Linked DNA regions of Homo sapiens. The protein of the gene in region 2 interacts with the protein of the main gene of each other region in a biochemical or structural test. Each region holds a gene or a part of one and is shown on either strand. Other genes may lie near its edges.

Region 1 (7,038 bases), on a different chromosome or scaffold from region 2:
CTCTGTTGCCCAGGCTGGAGTGCAGTGGCACAATCGTAGTTCAATGTAGCCTTGAATTCCTGGGTTCAAGTGATCCTCCTGCCTCAGCTTCCTGAGTAGCTGGGACTACAGGTGTGTGCCGTTGTGCCCAGCTAAGCTTTGCTTTTTCATTAAATAATTATTTTTAGTTTTTACTTTTTGGACCACTCATTATTGGAAGCTTTATTCTTTAGATCTGAAGGAGAGGGGTTCATGCCACCAGTTACTTGACCAGCAGAGAATGCACCTAAAATTGCTTCCTAGAATCTCTTTTGGGTTCTGCCACAGCATTTTGGATGAGTCTTGTGAGCCTCTGCTTCATGATCCCAGTTTCAGATTTAAAATTTGGAAAGTGAGTTTATGGCTATGTCCATGTGTGACAAAATGCATGGTGAGAAATCAGCATTGGGCATTAAATACAAAGTAGAGACGACAAAGTGAGGTGCTCAACTTGAGATTCAGGTAGATCTCTTTCCTACTAATTTCCCCTCCTCTCTCTCATGGTCACATATGTGTTTGTGGCCTTCTGGGATGAATATATATACATCTGTTTCTTCTGCTATAAAATTAAGTAAAATTTGGGTTTGTCTGCTGCTGGAAGAGTTTGGAATGGTATCTAGTTCAAAGCTTAGACCCTGCTTGAAAATATTCCAGGATTGCTCTTGATATGGAAGCTTTTTGTTCAGTTCTTCTAGATCAGCTAAGCCTCAATGTTCTTCAAAATGAAAGAGAATTGTCTTCATGAATTTTCTGGCTAGCCCATGCCTATTTGAGCAGTTTAACCTTTCATGTACACACTCAACCGTGGACCTTTAGTTGTGCTATCTTAAATTTTAAATATAAGTGTTCTGTCCACGAAGCCTTAAGACACAGGGCCCTGGGTACTTTCTTCCTTACTTATTTTTAACTGTGGCACTTTGTTAGTGGATTAGCTAATTTTGGTCAAGTCTATGAAAATACGCCTGGAAAAAGAGGCAAAAGTTGTAATCTGGTAAGCACTTGGATGATATCCCCTGAATTTTGACCCCGCTCTCCTTTCCCAGTTATTTGTATGAGCTTATGTGCTTGTAGGGGCTGAGAGCCTGTCTGTGTTTCAGTTTATCATTGTTGACTCCAGACACTCATAGTTCCTTTGAGGCGGGTGAATGCTTAGTAGTTATTTATCCACTCACCTCTGGAGGGGATGTGTGGCCAAGGCTTTGGAATAGTCTCAGGCCTTCTATGTGTGTGTGTGTTGGCACATACACAAATGCTCCCACCGAATCTGGTACAGACCATACACGCACTTGCACAAGTATTAGGAGTACTAGGTATTTAAAAGGGGCTCAGTTTTTCCAACATAACTGGCAGAAATTTTGAAGAGTCTAAATTACTGAATTACACAGTTTATCAAAAAGTCACTAATGGTGGTTCCAAAATTACCAGAAGTCCACAAAGCGGAGCTACCCTGCTGAATGATCCTAGCTTATGTTACACACTGGTTTCTAGTGGCTGGGTAAGCACAAAATGCTTGTTTTTTAAGTGCTTGGCAGGCAATAACACCTTCAAAATGAAAAAAGATGTAACCACTGAGTATAAGTTTTAAAATAATAAGAACAAAAAAAATTTTTTTGTGCTTACGTTGGGCTTATTCCATCTTGAATTTCATTAGGTTGATGTATTAAATGAATTTTACATTTTATTATTGTAACAATTAGAATCCTTTGCTATTGGCAAGGCTGACAGTTGATGTTTGAGCAGAAAGATAAGTGTCTTGAGTGGCAGCTACGTTTACTTGGAAATGCCTCTTATCCCTGTCAAAGCAAAGAGGTATCTTTGTGTCCTCTCCCTTTTGAAGGGAAACAGTTGGGATTCTAATGCAAACCTGAAATCTGTGGCAGATGCCAGAATGTACCATTTACAAAGCCCAGAGTCCCTAGAACAAAGTATTTCATTGATGTTCTGGTAATTTTCTTGCCTTTGCAAGTTCTTGTAAGAATGGAAAGAAAGATAGTTTCTCCAGCATACTTTTTTTTCTTTTTGGCTTATGACAGGAAATATGGGTTTCTGTTAGTGTTCTATATTTTAAGTCTTTTGTTGCAATGTTGTTCTGATCAAATGTTTGTGATAGCATAGTTAGGAGCTTATCCACATTCTTGGTTAGAAGATCAAGGGCAAGAGCTTGAAGGGCTGAGGAGATAATGAGCAGTTGTGTTCTTCCATTTTGTTAAAGCATTGCATTTTAGATTCCAGGTAAAAGGATTTTTTCTAGTGTCTCAGCTGATTTCACTTGCTTTGGTTGATGCAGGTGAGAAAGAAGAGTCCCCTTGGGCTCCTAGAATATTGAAGGCAGAGACTTCTGTGAAGCGAGTTGTCTGTTTCCTTGCATAAGGGCTATGTGACCATTAATCCTTGTCTGAGGGGTGCTTTGACCGTCTTGAGGGACATGTGTGCCTATCTCAGCCATCACTGACAAGTCTGGCTGGCTCATGAAGTCTGTGCTCGTCTAGATCACTACTACCCTCTACTGACAGTTTCCTACCCTGTCTCTTTGGTCGACCCGCCATGTGGCCCCCATGGGTCAGGCCTCTGTGTTTGTACTAATGAACATTACGCTTTCTTACCAGGAAGAGGAAGAACAGGAGGAAGAAGATGATGATGAAGATGATGATGACACCGATGATTTAGATGAGCTTGACACTGACCAGTTGCTGGAGGCGGAGTTGGAGGAGGACGACAATAATGAGAACGCAGGGGAAGATGGGGACAATGACTTCTCTCCCTCTGATGAGGAGCTAGCAAACCTTCTAGAGGAGGGAGAGGACGGGGAGGATGAAGACTCTGATGCAGATGAGGAGGTGGAACTGATCCTGGGGGACAGTAAGTATAGGGCAGAGTTCAGGCTGAGCCTTGGCACCCAGGGCAAGATCCCTTCTTTTGTGCCCATACAACTTAGAGGGCAAGCCATACCACGGTTCTGTGCCCCATAATTTGATTCACTACTCTGGTCTCTTGAGGCAAAGCACCTTTGCATCTCTGCCCTCCTCTCCTGTCAGACTGTGGAACCCAACCAAATGGCTGTCATTTCTTATCTTTCAAGTAGAGATTGGCAGACTTTTTCTGTAAGATCAGACAGTAAATATTTTATGCAGCCGGGCACGGTGGCTCACGCCTGTAATCCCAGCACTTTGGAGGCTGAGGCGGGTGGATCACCTGAGGTCAGGAGTTCGAGACCAGCCTGGGCAACATGATGAAATCCTGTCTCTACTAAAAATACAAAATTAGCTGGGCGTGGTGGCACATGCCTATAATCCCAGCTACTTGGGAGGCTGAGGCAGGAGAATCGCTTGAACCTGGGAGGCGGAGGTTGCAGTGAGCCGAGATCGTGCCACTGCACTCCAGGCTGGGATAATAGAGTGAGACTCCATCTCAAAAAAAAAAAAAAAAAAAAAAAAATGCTTTGTAGGGTATATGGCCTTTGTTGCAGCTCTTCAACTCTGCTGTTGTAGTGAGAAAGCAGTCATAGACAATCCGTAAATGAATGATTGTGGCTGTGTTCTAATAAAACTTTGTTTTGCAAAAATAGGTGGTGGGCTTGTAGTTTGTCAACTCCTGCTTCAGAGGATTAGCCTTAGAATGAAAGGCCAAAGTGTAGCTCTCCGCCGAGAGGCATGGCTAGAATCAGTCAGAAGCAGCCCCTCATGGGGTGCTGTTCTTTTTGGGGTGAATTATAAAGAAATGCAGGCCCTCTTGTGGAGGAGCCCTTTCCTGTCTCCCTTTGGCTAATCCCTCCTAACAGCCAAGGGGAAAATATTTTCCCTTTGGCTTCTGGTTTATTCACTTCCTTTTATTTACCTTTTTTTCTTAATCCAAATTTTGAGGAACAAACTCCAGTTCTTCTAGTTATTTCCCATTAGGTTTCTGAAGTCAAGTTGTCCCCTGACTATGGTAATGAATCCTGCAGAAATCAGCAAATAGTTCAAAGAGGCTGTTAGCTCTGCAGCTGTACATGAATCTTCTTACCAAGGCTGTATTTTGAGGAAGCTTGAGGGTGGGAGGGTAGGGGAGTGTCTTCTATATGTTCATCTGCTGTTCATCAACTTCTGTTTTTTCATACTTGGAGGCTGAGGTGATTCAGTGGAGTAGGCCGAAGCCTGGTCAGACAAAGTTTTAATGAACGTTTTTGTCACGTGTGAATAGTGAGACATGGGAAACAAGTTATACCTCCTTTCAATTACAAGTAGTTAGCAGGGCAGGTTCGCAGGGTCAGCAAACAGCAGGCCAGCTGATGGTGGTGCTCCCAAAATAAGAGAGCATCACTTTAATTTTTCCATTCTTAATTTGAATATAAAGCCACTCAGTTTGTATTTGGCCTGTACAATTACTGCCTCTTTTAGCTGTTGAGGAAATTCCTTCTTTCAAGCCAAAGGTAATCTGGAAAACTTTAACTCTATCAGTTGTGAGAATGTTGTTACTTTATGAGAATATTTACGATGTGAAAATAATGGATCACAACTTGAGGACGTCTCAGAGTGGACTTCAGAATTGAGGTGGAGATGCAGAGGTGGCATCTGGAGCACACTCCATGGCTCTTTCTGTGTTTCATAGAAGAGCCAGCTGCTGTCAGCAAGGAGAGCATTCTTAGCACCCATGGTTTTGCCTAACACTAATCCTTTAGAGCAGTAGCTCTGAACCTTACTGGGCTTATGAAGAGCCCTTTTAGGATAGGGTGAAAGCCATAGAAACTATAGAAAACCACACCCATGCGCCCCCACGTACCTTTACGTAGGCCCTGGAGTCTGCAGGGACTCCCTGATTGCAGATGCAGAGCCCTGGCCCTAGGAAGAGAAACAGCTTGATTCTGAGATCTTTTTTTTTTTTTTTTTTTTTTGAGATGGAGTCTCACTCTGTTGCCCAGGCTGGAGTGCAGTGGCGCAGTCTTGGCTCACTGCAAGCTCCGCCTCCCGGGTTCATGCCATTCTCTTGCCTCAGCCTCCTGAGTAGCTGGGACTACAGGCGCCCGCCACCACCCCCAGCTAATTTTTTGTATTTTTAGTAGAGACAGGGTTTCACCGTGTTAGCCAGGATGGTCTTGATCTCCTGACGTCGTGATCCGCCTGCTTTGGCCTCCCAAAGTGCTGGGATACAGGCATCAGCCACTGCACCCGGCCTGATTCTGAGATCTTTATGTGTCTCTGCTTGTCAGCCCTGCCTCCAGAACCTGTATGTTGTAGAGCGATAGGTTAAACACTACAGGGATTAATTATACCTAGATTGTCTGCCTTAGCGACCTTTCAGAATGGGAGGTCCTAACCAGGGTTTGGGATTGGGTCACTTCAACACTTGGAGAATGGGGAAAGGATAAGGAAGGTGGGGAAAGGATAAGGAAGGTAGAGAAAGGCGTCCTATGGTCTGACCACCAGAGGGGAGTTGGTGCCCAAGCCCTGGAGGTTTTCTCTCAGACCTTGAGCCTGACAGTTACTTGCTTAAAGAAGATTGTGCTGTGACCTCGTTAAGCTGCATTTACAGTTCTTAGATGTGCTACAGCGTGGTTAAGATTCTTAGTTCTTAAGAGCTGCATAGCTGCTGGGCAGAAGGGTCTCAGGCCGGTGGGTCTGGCATTGTTGGCTTGTGGAGAGCATGAGTCCTGGGGGATGCTGTGGATGCTGCCGCAGGGACCAGGCAAGTTTGTGGTATGGGGTGGGGACACAGTGCTGGACTTGGCTCTGGGGAGGAGGCCCCACACCCTCCTGTGACACTTCCTCCTGGAGCTCTTACAGCAGAGGAGCTGAGGCTTGCTTTGTTCAGCTGTGTTAGATAATAGTTCTTTGCCATCTCCATCTTGTTTTCCTACTCTTCACCAATACATCACCAATACAGTCAGGCCACTCTTGTGCCCACTTAGACCCAGGAACACTGGTTTTGTCAGCCATTTCTTTTGCTTACTTCCAGACTTTTTTGTATCATTGCCATGCTTTTCTTGGTTTTCCTTTGTCCACTTCAGTTTTCCTCCTAAAGGAAGTTGTGTTTGGGGATAATGAATGAAGGAAGGTTTGGGAACATGATTGCTCTCTGTTTGTCCAAGAGTTGATTCTCTTAGGCACTGGAAAAAGGCTGATGAGGGATTCTTTGCATCTAGTGGCTGCCCCTTACCACATGGGGCATTTGCAGGGCTCCAGCTCAGGGTTTGTCTGTTTTACGGGCTCAGGGTTTGTCTGTTTTATGGGGGACCTAGGTAAAATGGTTTCATAGCCTCCTGAGCTACGAGTAATCAAATTGGGCACTGAGAACTTTCCTTTTCTTTGACTCAGCGAATATTAGAGTCCCTACAAGCTAGGTACCCTGTTTCTTTCTGATTTTGATCAGCCAGACATGGTGTATCTACCTCATCTTGAGGGTCCTTTTTGCTACCACTTAAGTTTCACCCCTTAACAGATCCTTCCAGAAGTGTTAATGTGTCCGTGTGCTGCCAGAGAAGGCAGATTGTCAAGCAGAGAGGGTCCTCATCAGAGACAGTGCTGTCTTCCAGGGCGTCACACTGCTCCCGCTGGCCTCCTGCCTCTGGATGGGTAGCTACTTCTCTTGTATTGCTGCAAATTGGCCTGCACCTTTTTGGGAATATAATTTGCAGACTATATTCTGAAATTACAGAGGCATGAATCTAGGGTGACTATCTCTGCCTTGGTGGTCGGTCTTCTGAGGATTGAAGGGAGTGACTAAGGTGTTTCAGAAAAGATACATCTCTCACTTTTGCCTGGTCTTAGCCTGCCTTTCTAGTGGTCTCTTGGGGTCAGGCAGGCCTGTGCGTATCCTTGAAGGACAGCAGAGGCCAAGGGCCATGGAGGCTTACTCACTGCTCCCGTCAGCTCTGCCCCTTTGCAGCCATTTAAAGTGGCATGGGGGGAAGCTTCAGATGGCACTCGCTTGATCCCTTCAGCGCCTCCCAGGCAGGAAGCAGGGGAACTGTGTCCAGGCCCTTAGGAGAGCAAAAGGTCTCCGGGAGAATACAACTGCCAAGCAACAGGAGTATTCTCCAGAGCC
Region 2 (6,703 bases):
TAAGCAACGTATTACTGCCATGATTCCATTCCCTAGATGATGCTGGTGATGCAAGCTGGCTTCTCTTGGCCAGCCTACCTACTGCTGGGTAGTGTTTATGCCCCATGGCCAGACACTGAAGAGGGAGACAGGAAAAGCACATATCCACACCTTCCACCCTCAGACATTCCTGTAACTTGAGCTTATCTAAGGGGGCATTGTCATATGTCAGGGGTTCCCAAACTACGGTCTTCAGAAACACTGTTTACCCTCCATAGAGGTTGTGTGCATCAGCCCAGGCAGAATCCTGCTTCATGAAGGTGTTTTCCTAATGCATGTGTGCATGGACCTGTCTCATGCTACACTGCAGGGCTGGTATTCAGCACCAATAGTTATTGTTGGCTGCTAAAATAGCAAACTACTCAAAATGGCAGGTAAATAGCCCCAAGCCCCTATCCCCAGTGTCCTCCCACTACTCAAACCCCTCTCCCTCAGATCTGCCCCCAGTCCAGTATCTACCTGCACTGTTCAATATGGTAACCACTGACCACATGTGACTATTTACATACAGTTTATTAAATGCAATTAAAAGTTCAATTCCTTATTGCACTGGCCACATTTCAAGTGCTTAGCTGGCACATGTGGCTAGTGCCAGTGCCTACTGTATTGAACGGTACAGACAGAGCATTTCATCACTCTAGAAACTGGATGGCAAGTGCTACCCAGCACAGCAGCCGTGAGGACCTTTCTTGGGCTGCTGACTGTTCTGTCTGTGACTGTGTCATATCAACTGACTTTTTGGAGCAGCATCTGTGTGTTAGCAGGACACATCACCTATGGCACATGCCTCAAAACTTAACACTCCTTGGGCCCCAGGAGCCCAGAATCAACTGACAGCCCTGGTGATAGTCAAGGACAGGTGACTATGTTTATATAAGCATGTTCCTATGACAGGAATGTCCCCTCCTTCTGCCATTGTCTATGTGAACATAAACAAAAGGATTTTTTTTTTTTTGAGACAAAGTCTCACTCTTGTCACCCAGGCTGGAGTGCAGTGGCACAGTCTCAGCTCACTGCAACCTCCATCTCCCGGGTTCAAGTGATTCTTGTGCTTCAGCCTCCACAGTAGCTGGGATTACAGGCGCCCGCCACCAGGCCCGGCTAATTTTTTTTTTTTTTTTTGAGACGGAGTCTCGCTCTGTCGCCCAGGCTGTAGTGCAGTGGTGCAATCTCGGCTCACTGCAAGCTCTGCCTCCGGGGTTCATGCCATTCTCCTGCCTCAGCCTCCCGAGTAGCTGGGACTACAGGCACCCGCCACTAGGCCCGGCTAATTTTTTATATTTTTAGTAGAGACGGGGTTTCACCGTGTTAGCCAGGATGGTCTTGATCTCCTGACCTCGTGATCCGCCCGCCTCTGCCTCCCAAAGTGCTGGGATTACAGGCGTGAGCCACCGTGCCCGGCCTAATTTTTGTATTTTTAGTAGAGATGAGGTTTCACCATGTTGGCCAGGCTGGTCTCAAACTCCTGACCTCAGGTGATCTGCCCACCTTGGCCTCCCAAAGTGCCAGGATTACAGGCATAAGCCACCATGCCCGGCCAAATGAAAGGTTTTTTTTTTTTTTTTTTTTTTTGGTGCCCGGGCTGGAGTGCAATGGCATGTTCTCGGCTCACTGCAACCTCCACCTCCCAGGTTCAAGCGATTCTCTTGCCTCAGCCTCCTGAGTAGCTGGGATTACAAGCACCCGCAACCACGCCCAGCTAATTTTTGCATTTTTAGTAGAAATGGAGTTTCACCAGGCTGGTCTCGAACTCCTGACCTCAGGTGATCCACCCATCTCGGCCTCCCAAAGTGCTGGGATTACAGGTGTGAGCCACCGCGCCTGGCCGAAAGGATTTTATAATAGATGCATGTCCCTGTTCACCCCAAAGTCAAGTTCAGGCGGGATGCCAATAATAAGTCCATCAGTGTTTCCATAAAAAGTAAAATCATCTACAAGTTAAATTTCTCTCTAAAAAGGCCACACCCCTTATAAACAATTTACTTTTTATAAAAAGACAAATGTACATATTTACACACGTCCTTATGTGTTCACACATGACTTAATGGTTAGATGACATTTCCAATTTTAAGTCATACCAAGGCGCTCACACTTCCCTCCCTGGGCCTGTTGAGGGCTGCTGGGGCTTGAGGGGGTGGTGGGCGCCGAGCAAGGCACTGTATAAATAAATGCAAAGGCCAAGAGCTCGGGGGAAATGTTAGTGTACACCTCTGATCAGAAATGTGGCAAGATCCACACGAAAAAGTGCCAAGTTTTTTTCCCAAGCCCCTCAGCCAAAGCAGGGAGCAGGGTAGAGCTCCTCTGAGGCTGAGGGAGCATCGCCCCGAAGGACCCCACTTTCCTTCACATTTCACTGGCTTTGGAACAGTCCCCAGGGCTCAGCTGAAAAGGGGGTAGTTCTTTGGGAACGAGATTCATTTAGTGCAATTTTCTCTTAGTGCAGAGCCAGCCCTGGGATTGGTGTTATGCTTTTCTGGGGTCACTGGTCTGTTCCCCTAGGAGCCAGCCAGTGACAGCGAGACCCTCTCCAGGCAGCTGGGCTCAGAGGAAAAAGCCAGACACTGACTCCTGTCCAAGTCCCTGACCTGATACACTGGTCTCAGAACCTCATCTTCCCAGGAGGCAGGGCCAGCTTTACACCACAAGAAAAACCCAGACACTGGCCTGCCAGGCCCTGAGAGGTCAATGACCCAAGGAGGGAGGCCCCATCCCCACTTGGCAGTGGGGTCACACTTGGCTGTTGAGGGGCCCACAGAAGTCCAGCTTCTCTGCACCATATCCACCATGATGCCAGGTCCTGCTTGCCTAGAGGAATAAGAGGGGCCCAGGGGCCCTGCTACGGTGCACAGGGAATGGCCTGGATGGAGGGCAACCGGACTGGGGTCAGCAGGCTGTCCAGCCAGGTGGCATCCATGTTCTTCAGATCTGTGAAGACACGCTGTAGACTCAGCCCAATATCCCCTAGAAGATGTGAAGAAGGTTGTATGAGGGTAGGGGACGGTGGCATCAGGTGTGCTTCCCCCTACCCCTGAAGGCCATAGACATGGCCTCTGCTCTTCCCAGCACAGCAGTAAACATCCACTCAGCTTCAGGCAAACCTTAAGGCATGGCAGCCGTAGCTAATTCACAATGTGTCAGTACCCCAGATGCTTTACCGCCCTGCTCCCTGGCCCTGCCCCCAAGCTTTCTCCATCCCTACGTGGTTCTCCCTCATCTAAGAAGCCATAAGGATCCAGGGCCTTCTTACCCCCTGGGCTGTCAATTTCTGGCTCCTCCTTACAGCTAAAGTCTCCATAGACAGAGGTGGGCTGGACTCCAGGTTCATTGAGTAGGTACCCCTTCCCATCCACGTTTGTTGGCTGCCACTCCGACTGCTCCAAGAGCTGGGGACAGAAGAGCAAGAGGCTATCAACTCCCTTCCAGTGCAGACTCACCCTGTGGCCCTGCCCTCAATGAGCCAGCTCCTCTCAGCCAGTATCACACCCTTGGCCATTTTCACAATCTCAGATAGGATGCAGAAGTGCACTGCAGTCAGGACAAGGGCCCGGGAGGGAGGAGGCAGAAATGCATGTTGGCACTGGTCCTCAATTCATTTTCCCACCCCTCTCACACCCACTCTCTGGTATAGCATCTCCACGACTTCCCTCTCAACTGTGTAAGGACATAGTAAGAGGGAATGTGGCTTAAAACAAAGGTTAGCATAATAAATCAAGAAAAGATGACTAGAAAAGCTAGAGATAAGGAACGACATCCATGTCTCAATTTTTTGGGCTAATGGAACAGCTGGCGTACAACTACTGCAAAAACTTTTTTTTGAAATGGAGTTTTGCTCTTGTTGCCCAGGCTGGAGTGCAATGACACAATCTCAGCTCACTGCAACCTCCGCCTCTCAGGTTCAAGCGATTCTCCTGCCTCAGCCTTCAGAGTAGCTGGGATTACAGGCATGCGCCACCAGGCCCAGCTAATTTTTATATTTTTGGTAGAGATGGGTTTCACCATGTTAGTCAGGCTGGTCTCAAACTCCTGACCTCAGGTGATCCACCCACCTTCGCCTTCCAAAGTGCTGGGATTACAGGCATGAGCCACTGCCCCCGGCTGCAAAAACTATATTCACTTTCAAAACTGAAGCAGAAAAAAAAACCTGGAGGATAATTTGCTAACTTTTTCTATAAAGCCATCATCATATTAACGGATCCTAAAGGCTGATTATTGAAGCCTGATGTGCATTTCCCGAACTAGCAGGGCTGGGGCATGTTGGGGCAGAGGATGCAGGCCAGGGACCCATCGCTGATAGTGCCTGACTCACAGAGCTGTCTGATGCCCCAAGGCTTGCTTCAGGACGGCCTGTCAGAGGCCAGGCCTCCCACCTGCCTTCCCTTCCCATGGTGGCTTTCCCACCAGTCAAGCCACGTGAATGTGGCACTTGTGGGACAATGCAAGCAGCCAGGTGACAACAGCAGCTACCCATCCTCTGATTTGGAAGCTTCACTGGTTCTCTCTCCTCACTGAGAAACGGTCACTTCAAGAGTGCCCAGGTAGGAAGGGGCTTTACCTTCATGATGTCCTCAGGTAATTTCCCTTCCTCATCCTCATCTGTTGTAGCTGTGGATGGGGAAAGCAGAGAGGTTGGCTGGCAGTCAGCCACACTCACCCTGCAGTTCCAGTTCCAGCCCACCAGATCCCCCTGCCCTTTCTCTGTCTCTCTGTCTCTCTGACACACACACACACACACACACCCTCCCGGTGGACCTATCTGCCATAGAGATTCCAGAACAGGACCCTGGCCTGGTGACTCAGCCTCTCAAACCCTGAAGCCACGCCGCTTCCCACCCCTACCCTACTTCCTTCCTCACCCTCAGATGCTGGGCTACAGAGGAGGAAGGAGAACCAGCACCCCAAAATGCAGCCCCTGGCCCCCTTCCCTCCTCTCACCAGCCCCCACTGTACTGCAGCCCACTCTGAACTGCCTTCCTAGTGTCCCCGTCGCTTGCCTCCCCCTATGGTGGCTAAGACTGGGCAATGCCCAACTCAATCAATTCAGTGCCAGGTGGAGTTCTGATCATCTTTTCTCTCTCAGGAAGCCCTTCACAGGACCCAGACAGTCAAGCAGGCAGGCCAGGCCCCAGGAGCACCAACCTTCAGAGGTGGAGGGCATGGGTGACACCTGGAAGTTGTACAGATCACTGGTGCTGTCCGGCACAACTTCCACTGGGATGTGCCAGTCGGGGAGAGTGCTGCTGACAGCACATGGCGACAGTGCTGGGGAACAGCAGAAGCCACAGGTCAAGGTTGTGTGCTTTCTTAGTTTGCAAGACATCGAGCGCCCTCCGACCAACCCTGCAGCCTGCACTAATGGGCCACCATGTGCCAGCACCATGCCTCCAAGAGAAAGAGTCATCCCACTGACCTGTGGGGTCTCCTGCCAGACCTGGACCAGCTCACCTGGAGTCAGGGCCTGCTCCACCTCCAAGTCCTGCATGTAGCCTGGAACTGTGTAGCTGCTGTGGTCATCAGGCAGAGTGGAGCTGCTGAGTCCATCAGAGAAGGTATCAGGGCTGGAATCCCCACATGACTGTCGAGGGAGAAAGCAGCTTAGGCCCAGGCCCACCTTAGCATTTCTTCCACTGCTCACCCTGGCCCACAGGTGACCAAAGGCCTGGCTGCTTAGGACCACACTCACCTTCCTCTTGGCCTTGCTCTTAGCATCTCGGCTGGACTTCGACTTTCTTTCTGTGGGGCAGACGGGCTGTCAGCCTTGGTGCAGGCTCTCCAGCCCCAGCTGACCTCCTTCTACCCTCCCTCCCTGAGGGCTTCCCAAGGACCCAGAGTCCTTGGATACCTTTTCTCTGGTTCTTGGTGAGAGGTGGAAGCATCCGGTACACTCGCACAGCTGAGCTGCCCTTGTTCCTGCTCTGGTCTTTCACCTCCTCGATATCTGGCAGGGAGTTCATGGCACAGCGAAAGTTGGCCTTCCACGTCTTGGGATCTGGCTCCTTTTCCCCTGCTTTGTATCGGCCTAGAGGGCAGGAGAAAAAAGAGGATCGTCAGGGCCATGGGTAGGGATCCTCAGCTGCCCCTGGCCTGAAGGAGGAAGGCAAGGTACCCCTGACCTCTTATGCTACCAGAGAGCCACAGTGGTCAAACCAGCAGGTACTCCCGGTGACACTCTGCAGGTCCTAGGCCCTGGGCCTTCTCAAATGCCCAGGCTTGGCTTAAACACATCTAGCGGGCCTCAGTGAAGGGCCCAGCCAGAAGCACTAGAGTCCCCATATCCCCAAAGTGTACTATCTGTGTCTCAGACTATGCCCAGTCTTCCTCCTTGGGCTATCAGCAGCCAGAGGGTAGAGTGGGCACAGACTGGGCAGCAGAGAACAGTTACTAAATGGGTGGGCTGACTGTTCTGAGATGGGCCTAGAGCTCCATCTCTCAAGGATAAAGGAGGCCACCAACCACATGAGGCTTGGACCAAGGGCCTTGGTCAACACGAAGAAAAAGGCAGACCTGGGTCTCTTTCAGTGCCCTGGCTTACAGCTGCTTTTCACAGATGCTTTTGCCAGGGAGAACTTTCATCTAGCCACAAACCCCCTGAAGCCACACACTTTCTAAGATCTTGGCTTTTCCCTTTGAGAATTTGCTGAGATGATCGACTCTCTTCTCCAGAAAC
Region 3 (7,038 bases), on a different chromosome or scaffold from region 2:
AAACCTCAGCAATTAGAAACAATATTGTTTTAATGTTGTCTTCTTTGTTTTTTAGTCATTTCAATTGTAAAATCAACTGAAACTTAGGTTCTCGCCATCTATATAAAAACTGAGAGAGGAGGCCTCAGATTGTATGCAGTGCCACGGAAAGCACTGTGTGCATATTATATTTAATGCAATACAGATACTTTAGCTTTAATTTTAAAACAAAACTCAAGAAATCTTTATCTCCACCAAAGAAGAATACAGCATTTGCATGATAATATAGTTGTGGTAGCAGTAGTGGAAAAACAAGATACAGCCACATAGACAGCAGTATGTAAAAGGGAAGAACCTTGTCAAACCCATCTCTTAATCTACTTTTTGTGTCAGTGATAAGGAAGGAAAAAGGTAAAAATACAGTATACTTCACGAAACATCATCCACTCAAAAAAGTGTCTGGAAAAAGTACAGGAGAGAGAATGGAACCATTCGCAAATGTGAAAAACACATATATCAGCGAAACATATGCAGTTCTCAATGCAGTTACATAGGAAATGAGTTTTGAAATGATCTGATTCTCATATTATCTCTGGTGTATTATTCAAGTTGTCAGTTACTGCTTTTTCTACTCCTTTCCCAATTTTGTGGCTAATAGACTAAATACCACCCTAATAACAAAAAGGACAAAGTAGCCCATTTAAGAAACATGAATTAAATTTCTGAGTTTATCTACATCTATGGTTAATTTCAACTTTTGAATGAGTGGTTGTGAATAGCCTAACTCCCTTGGGAGAACTGTAAAAATAATTGTATGTGACCAAGATGAAAGCAGAATGTATTCAGCTTTGGATATCAAACACAACTTGTGAATTTGGAAATGTACATCCTTCTATTGATATTAGCTAGTGTCATTAAGCCATAACAAACAGTAAAGCTAATATTCTCTTCTCAAGAAACAGAATTTGTCTTTGTCTTTAAATAGCCAATGTGAAAGATGTAATAAAATACACATTTTCCCCCTACCAGATCCATGATGGCTACCTTTGAAAGAGGACTGATATAATTGTATATAAACTTGGCTTTGAACTATTTCACAGGTAAACCAATGGAAAACTGCCAGTTACACTTAAAGCAAAGAAAACATGTAAGAATTCTCCCACAGAAATTTACCGTTCCTACGTCAAGCAGTTCCCTAAATAACCACTGATTTATCCAACAACCTATAACAGTTGGGCACTGACTTTATGCATAACATTTGCTAGATGTTGCTTAACTTCTCCTTTCCCAAAGGACCCTCATTCTCGTCCTGATACTTTGGGTGTATCTGGATGTTTTTCACTTGTGAAACCCACTCTTCAGAGAATGCCTTTCAATTTTACCTTCAGTAAGATGCATGATGCCCTTCAGAGTAACTGATGTTTCTGAGTTAGAGAAAAATTCACTTGCTATCAACAGGTTGCAGCGAATTTGCTGGCCTTTCTTTCATTTCCCTAGAAACACAGGATGTGAAGGAACAGAGTAGCAGGAGGGAATCACAGATGAGAAGGAAAACTGTCGCCAGAGAAGATGAAAAAAATTCATGCTCTATACTGTGTTCATCTGTAAAAAGACAAAATGTGGTTAAGTTTATTACACTGATCTTGTGAAATGCAGACTCATACATTAAACATTGCTTGTCTATTCTAGAATGAAGTAGTAGGAAGATACTTGCAATGGCAAATAAATACCGTGGAATAAGAGGGCCTTCAGCATGTACTATGTATTATCCTGGGCTAATCAAGACCTTTTATATCACCTAAGCTGACGGATTATTACTCTGCTGCCCACTGGCTTAATTTTGTGAATCCATCCAGACTGCATAAAGCTTTTTGCTGTTATGCAAGTCTGGGGACAGAGCAACGTGTCAAATCTGCTCATGTGAAACGGGTGAGGAAATGCTGAGCCATATGCCAGAGGGAGAGAGGAAGGAGAGGGAAATGATACACTTCCCCTAAAGGCCACTCAGTGGGTAAAATCAATGACTGTGTTTCAGGTACAGACTAAAGAAGCAGAATTACTAAGAACCCCTTCACCTTCCCCACCAGTGCCTTCTGCCCAGCTGCCTTGACCAGGACAACTTATAGTAAGTAAACTGTTCATCCAAAGGATACTAGCCTGCCAGTGACTTCCTGTCTGACTTCCACACTGGTCTTTCCCCTTAGACCAGATGCTTTCAATCGAGGATGATTCTGTCCCCTGGCAATGGCTGAAGACATTGCTGATTGTCCCATCTGGCTGTGAGGGTGCATGTGCTTACTGGTATCTATTTGGTAGAAGCCAGAGGTGTTGCTGAACCTCCTACGAAGCACAGGAAAGCTCCCCACCCCACCAATCCCCAACAAATAATTCTGAAGCCCCGAATACCAGTAGCACCAAGACTGAGACACATGGCACTAGACTGGAAAGCCTCTGGAGAACTTTTTTTTAATCCCAAGTGCTCAATAGTGTGTGGTACATAGTGGGCTCTTAGGAAAATTATTTTGGATTGAAAAGCACAGTGAAAGTGTTGCCCCTATGTTTCAGTCTAGCTTATGTTTCTCTTTTCTTTTTCTTTCTTTTTTTTTTTCAAATTGGAGACGGAGTCTTCCTCTGTTGCCCAGACTGGAGTGCAGTGGCACCATCTTGGCTCACTGCAACCTCCACCTTCCAGGTTCAAGCGATCCTCCTGCCTCAGCCCCCCTAGTAGCTGGGATTACAGGCACACACCACCATGGCTGGCTAATTTTTGTATTTTTAGTAGAGATGGGGTTTCACCGTGTTGGCCAGGCTGGTCTCAAACTCCTGATCGCAGGTGATCCACCTGCCCCGGCCTCCCAAAATGTTGAGATTACAGGCGTGAGCCACCGCGCCCGGCCTGGCTGATGTTTCAAATGTGTGCTTAATAGGGTGGACCGTGGGGGTAAAGAGAGGGAGGGAGGGGGAGATAGATAGATAGAGGAAGAGAGGAAGCCCAGATTCAGATCCTGTCACTGCGTGACCAGGGCAAGTGGCTTAACCTCTCTAAATCTCAAAGTCTTCATCTATCAAAAGGGGATTAATAGTACCTAGCAGATAGGCTTGTTAAATTAGATGGCATACGTAAAATGTTTAGTATAGTAGACAGAAAGTAGTAGACAATTAATAGCTAGTCCTATCATTATGAGCTTTGGCTAAAGGCCTCTTGGAGAGTAGACTGGTTCTATTACAGTCCCAGAGGAAAACACTGATTACACAGGAAATCCAGACTAAACAAATGCCCAAGTCATACTGCAGAGAACACTGGTGCTCTGGCTCTCTTGGACAATTTCCTCAGGAGCCTATGGTCCTGTTGCTCCTGAGGCTGCACCAGGCGTTGGCCCCTGGTACCACCCTCTTTCAGAGCTGCAACCTCCAGACTTGGCAGAAGACAGCCAGCTTGGGGAGAGCTGCTTCTGTTTCAGAGTATACACTCTGATTCTAAGAGTAGATGCTGGATGGAAGTCATGGCCAAGGGGCAGGACAGCAAACCATTGTGAAGTCAACCCAATTTAGAGACTGATTCAACCGTTGTCTAACCAGTGCCGTGCCTATATTATGAACTCTTTTTCTTTTCTTTTCTTTTTTTTTTTTTATATTATAGCCTCTTTTAGCTCTTTAAGTCTTCTATGGGTTTAATGGGAGGCTTTAGTGGTGTATAGAGGGTGTGTGTGTGTGTGTGTGTGTGTGTGTGTGTGTGTGAAATGGATTTATTTTATTCTACAAATGAAATGAATAAAATCACCTGAAATGGAACGGAATGGCTACAGCGAGTGTCCAAAGACCACAAAACTGTTTCCTGACATGTGCTTAGCATATTTAAATTGTTCTCACAGTATCATCCTGAGAGCAGAGAGAGCAGTCCAACTGCTCCACAGGACTGCAGAGAGGGAACCAATCCATCTATTTTCTCAATAATGGTGATGACAGAGATGGAATGCTGATTGCCAAATCCCAAACACATACGGGCCTCTCACCCAAAGGCCATGATGCCTTTGTCTTAATAACAGAATAAACCCAATCCTGTACAAACAGCTTCTTCAGGGTGCATGTTTTGAATGGGGCAAAGATTAGCTTTTTGTGGGAGGCTTTCCAGGATACCGGACAAAAGCATGCACTAGAGACTCACTAGGTAGATTCAAATATTCTTTCTACCATTTACTAACTGCTTGATCTTAGTCAAGTTACATAAAAGGGGCTGTGTGGGGAGGAGGGGCTCTGTTCCCACATCTGTCAAAGTAGGAATAACAATAACACCTAACTCAGAAGGTGGCTGTGAGGACTGAATGAGTTACTACCTGTGAAGTACATGGTATACTGTAGGTGCTTAATGTCACCTATTAATGGTGGTGGTGATGATGATGTAATTTGCTCAGGAACAACAAAGGAGGTATAAAAAATCCCCCCATTTTACAGTTCCTGTGATGTAACATATTTTCTGAATAGGGCTTTATATTTATTCCATTTTTGTGCCAGGCCTATAGCAGTGTTGGGAGCGAAACTCTAGCAGGATCCTTCTTACATGCAGAAAAGGTTCATTTTACACTTGCCAATAGGAATGAAACTATTTCGCTGCCACAATAGCTAACTGTTTTTCTAAATGGCCTATTTCGTCAACAACAATCAGGAAAGTGTAGGAAGGTACAATCTCTAATGATTGTAGCCCGTGCTTAAGGTGAGGAAAAAAGTCAAAAAATTACACATGAGAAACCTGAATCCAGGCAGATCTTACTGAGGCCTTATCATCGCATTCCCCAAATGTCTGAAGAGTGACGCCCTCTCATTCTCGCTCACCTTTCCCCTCCCTGCCTTCCTCTCTTTGTTGAGCACCTACTTTTTGCCAGGCACCGGGTATACAGTAAGGAAGAAAGGCCAGTAATAACTCAGGATATTTTTTGGAAGCATTAAATAAATTTTTAAAAATGAGCTGGAATAGCTCCATGTGGAAAAGAGCTTAAAATTAAACAGCATCAGCAAAAATCCAGCCAAGCAAGCACAATCTTTAAGAGGAAGGATTTTAGGCTGAAAGGCAAACAATACTAGTTGATATACTAAAAAAGCACCCTCCAAAAGGAAGATGTTCCCTTTTGTGGACAATCATATTCCCATTTCTATCACGAATCTCATTAACTATTTCACTCCTTGAACCTTTTACTCTTGGCAAGCCCTTCACAGCCCCAGGAGCTACTTGTACAAATTAGCTCTCAAATATAAGGCAGATGAAGTAATCTCATTGCTGCTAAAGTATAATTCTCTCTAATTACTGTAACTACCAAGCGTTAGTCCCTCCCTTTCTAAAAATAACACTCCCTCCCCTAGACACAGTGATGAAATCGCATTCCGAAGAAAAACATTTGCTTATCAAAGAAATCTTAGTTCCTTAATATATGAAATTTCTACATGGACAACTTTAAAGGGGAGAGGAGGAAACCTGAATATTAGAAATGTCACTTGTTTTTTGGAAGGTGCTGAATGCGAGGAATAAAAATCCCACTGATGATGTAGGTGGTTTAAATCCAGCAGCTCCAACTTGTCATGGCTCATCTGAGCACTGCACTCTCCTTGGCTCCGCCAGGGCTCCCTCCCGCAGACAGGCCCGGGATCTGCCATGGTGCGCTCCCTGCCTCTGAGCACACACACTTATTGAGAGCTACACACAGGCCAGCCGTGGTACTCACCATACTGTCGAATTCTACAGAGCCCACTATCCGAGACACCTCGTCAAACTCCTCAGGAGACATGGGGAGCAGGTTGTCTGTGGTCTGAAGTCTAGAAGGGTGACTAAAATGGGGAAAAAGAAAAGAGCAATGTCAACATCTGAGTGATGAAAGCACTAGTGCATACTTACACACTTTATCTTTTGTCTGTAATTGAATTATCACGTTATATTTTTATTTTGGGTAAGTGCATACACTTGTAAAATACATTTGCAAAAGTACAGCTCATGGGAGGCTCATGTCCCCAGCCCAGCCCCTTGGGAAATGTTTCACACTCCAGGGATGTGATAAGCAATAGCCAGACTGGAATCTGTGCCGCTTCTGCCTGGGTAAGCCTAGGTGTGAGCATGTGCGGTGCACTACCCTGAGATGACAATGCCTCGTGGCTTACCCTGGACAGAAAAGCACCAGAGAAATGTCTGGGGAGTCCCTCATCCCTACCTTGAGGTTTGAATGCAGATAAAGCTGCTCCACACAGTGTTTTTACATGAAGGCTACATCCATTCACCCCAAGACAGTGCTGCAGGCCAAATAACTGACAATGACATTTCCAAAATTTTTTCTACCTTTTATAAAATGAAACAACAAAATCAAAGCAAGTGGAGACAGTGTATCTCAATCATTACTTTGGCCTTTTCTAGATTGAAAAGAACTACTTTCCCACTCTGATCAACTTTTGCTCATTTTATTTATACTTTTTCAAAGGGTATCAGTTTTGGGAAAATTTATATACCTTAAATACAAATTTGGTTTTTGGCTTTTTTTTTTTTTTTAAAGTAGTAAAATGCTGATAGGCAGTAACACGGGGATCTCAACAAGTTCAGCTGTGATGGCGATAGCAATTACAATGGAAAAGTAAAATACAAGCATCTTCAACAGGCCCCAGCCAGGAGCAAGGCTGGCTTGAGGTTTGTAAACATGTCACTCTTCTGTGTTCACTTACACTTCAGACACAGAAATCAACTCAGTCTTGATATATCCAGTTCCTTTAGGGCCATCAAGTTCCATTGGCTCTGGTGCTAGAAATAAACACATTGTGTACGCTTTCCATCAACCGAAATTCCATCAGAATACAACATCAACTTTTCGGGGGGATTAAAGTTCTACTGTGTTTCTAGACAGCTTAGCCTCCTAAAACTTTAAGGAGCTATAACCTCCCTGCCTGAGTCACCTAAAATTCTAGTGGGAATGCAGAAACAACGAGAAGAAGGATCTGAATTCAGTCTGGAAATAAGCTAGTGTTCAGCAGGACACTAGCTAGGAGCTTTCTCTTTACACAACTTGAAATCTTACAAGAAGTCTGAGC
Region 4 (3,140 bases), on a different chromosome or scaffold from region 2:
GCCGCCTTTGTGACGCGCTGCCGCCTGCAAGGCTCTGTTCCTGCCCCCGGGTCGCAGAGCCCCAAACCTGCAGTTGCCTGGTCAGTGGATCCCATGTGCAGAGGGCGAGACGGGGCCCTGGCCAGGCGTTGGGAGGCGGGAGGCTCGGCCGGCGCTCCGGGTGAGGATGGCACGCCCCCGCCCTTGCTTCTGCGCACAGGGAAGACATTCGGCCCCGAACTTGGGGCTCAAAACGGTTCAGTTCGCTGCCTTTCCCATCCTGACCCAGCCCCGGGTTTTTTCCGAAGCCGCCGCTGGATAGGTTGCATTACTAGGCTTCCCCCAGCCACTCTCCCTGCCCAAAGCCTTCAGAAGCCGCCCCTCTCCCCTTCACCTGGCCCTTATCCACTGTCCCAGCCTCATTTCTTTCCCCCTCCCTGAATGTCTTCTGCTCCCCTTTCCTTGGGCACTGCCCTTATCCTGGGGTCCTGGCTGCTGCCATTCCTGGCCCTGGAAAACCAGTGCGGAACCCAAAGAAAGGTGGAAGAGCAGCTTTTAGAGAGGTGTTTTTATTCTTTGGGGACAAAGCCGGGTTCTGTGGGTGTAGGATTCTCCAGGTTCTCCAGGCTGTAGGGCCCAGAGGCTTAATCAGAATTTTCAGACAAAACTGGAACCTTTCTTTTTTCCCGTTGGTTTATTTGTAGTCCTTGGGCAAACCAATGTCTTTGTTCGAAAGAGGGAAAATAATCCAAACGTTTTTCTTTTAACTTTTTTTTTAGGTTCAGGGGCACATGTGTAGGCTTGCTATATAGGTAAATTGCATGTCACCAGGGTTTGTTGTACAGATTATTTCATCATCCAGATAAAAAGCATAGTACCAGATAGGTAGTTTTTTGATCCTCACCCTCCTTCCATGCTCCGACCTCAGGTAGGCCCCAGTGTCTGCGGTTCCCTTCTTTGTATCCATGTGTACTCAATGTTTAGCTTCTACTTATAAGTGAGAACATGTGGTATTTGGTTTTCTGTTTCTGAGTGAGTTCATTTAGGATAATGGCTTCCAGCTCCATCCACGTTGCTGCACAGGACATGATCCCATTCTTTTTTATGGCTGCATAGTATTCCATGGTGTATATGTGCCACATTTTCTTTTTTTTTTTTTTAAGGCAGAGTCTCGCTTGGTTGCCCAGGCTGGAGTGCAGTGGCAGGATCTCGGCTCACTGCAACCACCACCTTCCAGGTTCAAGCGATTCTCACGCCTAGGCCTCCCAAGTAGCTGGGATGACAGGTGCTCGCCACCACGCCTGGCTAATTTTCGTATTTTTAGCGGAGACGGAGTTTCTCCATGTTGGCCAGGCTGGTCTCAAACTCCTGACCTCAGGTGAACCACCCGCCTCAGCCTCCCAAAGTGCTGGGATTACAGACATGAGCCACCACTCCCTGCCACCACATTTTCTTTATCCTTTCTACCACTGATGGACATTTAGTTTGATTCCCTGACTTTGCGATTGTGTATAGTGCTGCCGTGAACATTTGTGTATATATGTCTTTATGACAGAATGATTTAGATTCCTTTGGGTATATAACCAATAATGGGATTGCTGAGTCAAATGGTAATTCTGTTTAATCATGTCCCATTTGTCAATTTTTGCTTTCGTTACAATTATTTTTGGGATCTTTGTCATGAAATCTTTTTCCGTTCCTATGTCCAGAATGGTATTGCCTAGGTTATCTTCCAGAGTTTTTATAGTTTGGGGTTTTACATTTAAGTCTTTAATCCATCTTGAGTTGATTTTTGCATATGGTGTAAGGAAGTGGTTCAGTTTCAATCCTCTGCATATGGCTAGCTAGTTATCCCAGTACCACTTACTGAATGGGGAATTCTTTCCCCATTGCGTATTTTTGTCAACTTTGTCAAAGATTAGATGGTTGTAGGTGTGTAGCTTTATTTCTGGGCCCTCTATTCTGTTCCATTGATCTATGTGTCTGCTTTTGTACCAGCACCATGCTTTTGTACCAGTATCATGCAGTTTTGGTTACTGTAGCCCTGTAGTATAGTTTGAAGTTGGGTAATGCGATGCCTCCAGCTTTGTTCTTTTTGCTTAGGATTGCTTTGGCTTTTTGGGCTCTTTTTTGGTTTCAAATAAATTTTAATGCTTTTTTTTTCTGATTCTGTGAAGAATGTTATTGGTAGTTTGATAGGAATAGCATTGAATCTATAAATTGCTTTGGGTAGTATGGCCATTTTAACAATATTGATTCTTCCTATCCATAAGTATGGAATGTTTTTCCATTTGTGTCATCTCTGATTTCTTTCAGCAGTGTTTTGTAATTTTTGTTGTAGAGATCTTTCATCTCCCTGGTTAGCTGTATTCCTAGGTATTTTATTCTTTTTGTGGCAATTGTGAATAGGATTGCATTCTTGATTTGGCTCTCAGCTTGGATGTCGTTGGTGTATAAAAATGCTACCATATTTTGTATATTGATTTTGTCTCCTGAAAGTTAGCTGAAGTTGTTTATCAGATCTAGGAGCTTTTGGGCCAAGATCATGGGGTTTTCTAGATATAGAATCATATCGTCTGCAAACAGAGATACTTCGACTTCCTTTCTTTTTGGTTGCCTTTTATTTCTTTCTCTTGCCTGATTGCTGTGGCGAGGACTTCCAGTACTATGTTGAATAGGACTGAAGTGCCTTGTTCTACTTCTCAAGAGTAATGCTCCAGCTTTTGCTCATTCAGTATGATGTTGGCTGTGGTTTTGTCATAGATGGCTCTTATTATTTTGAGGTATGTTCCTTCGACGCCTGGTTTGTTGAGGGTTTTTAACATGAAGTCAAGTTGAATTTTATCAAAAGCCTTTTCTGTATCTATTGAGATGATACGTGAGTTTTGTTTTTAGTTCTGCCAAACCTTTTCTTTTAAAGCCCAACGAATAAAACCCATCACCTTTCACAAGACCACCACAGCAAGTAGGCAGGAATGCCAGTGTTAAAAGTGAAATCTTTTGAATTTGTAGTACCTTTCCTTTTCCAAATCTAGCTGAAATTTCTCACTTGTTTTCCTTTTGATGAAGCTAACCACCGGCATTTCTCCTAAGAAATGGATATAAAAAAAGTTTGATATGGTTAAAGTAAGAAGTGCTAGCTCCTAGAATATCTCTGGATA

What was found.
Region 1: the proteins of IRF1 (region 2) and DCAF1 form a complex in vitro, tested with the Homo sapiens proteins (one study listed by BioGRID).
Region 3: the proteins of IRF1 (region 2) and STAT1 form a complex in vitro, tested with the Homo sapiens proteins (one study listed by BioGRID).
Region 4: the proteins of IRF1 (region 2) and XAF1 form a complex in vitro, tested with the Homo sapiens proteins (one study listed by BioGRID).

What each region holds. Positions count from the first base shown.
Region 1 is NC_000003.12:51,398,982-51,406,019, reverse strand, and holds part of DCAF1 (DDB1- and CUL4-associated factor 1), read left to right. Parts: intron 1-2,624; coding exon 2,625-2,877; intron 2,878-7,038. UniProt on the Homo sapiens protein: Acts both as a substrate recognition component of E3 ubiquitin-protein ligase complexes and as an atypical serine/threonine-protein kinase, playing key roles in various processes such as cell cycle, telomerase regulation and histone modification.
Region 2 is NC_000005.10:132,481,076-132,487,778, forward strand, and holds the end of IRF1 (interferon regulatory factor 1), read right to left. Parts: intron 6,056-6,703; coding exon 5,879-6,055; intron 5,770-5,878; coding exon 5,720-5,769; intron 5,612-5,719; coding exon 5,482-5,611; intron 5,299-5,481; coding exon 5,176-5,298; intron 4,642-5,175; coding exon 4,592-4,641; intron 3,423-4,591; coding exon 3,287-3,422; intron 3,001-3,286; coding exon 2,876-3,000; 3' UTR 534-2,875; downstream 1-533. UniProt on the Homo sapiens protein: Transcriptional regulator which displays a remarkable functional diversity in the regulation of cellular responses.
Region 3 is NC_000002.12:190,969,137-190,976,174, forward strand, and holds the end of STAT1 (signal transducer and activator of transcription 1-alpha/beta), read right to left. Parts: intron 6,776-7,038; coding exon of another isoform or gene 6,752-6,775; coding exon 6,676-6,751; coding exon of another isoform or gene 6,672-6,675; exon of another isoform or gene 6,402-6,671; intron 5,797-6,401; coding exon 5,694-5,796; intron 1,582-5,693; coding exon 1,567-1,581; 3' UTR 13-1,566; downstream 1-12. UniProt on the Homo sapiens protein: Signal transducer and transcription activator that mediates cellular responses to interferons (IFNs), cytokine KITLG/SCF and other cytokines and other growth factors.
Region 4 is NC_000017.11:6,773,040-6,776,179, reverse strand, and holds the end of XAF1 (XIAP-associated factor 1), read right to left. Parts: intron 3,068-3,140; coding exon 3,011-3,067; 3' UTR 533-3,010; downstream 1-532. UniProt on the Homo sapiens protein: Seems to function as a negative regulator of members of the IAP (inhibitor of apoptosis protein) family. Inhibits anti-caspase activity of BIRC4. Induces cleavage and inactivation of BIRC4 independent of caspase activation.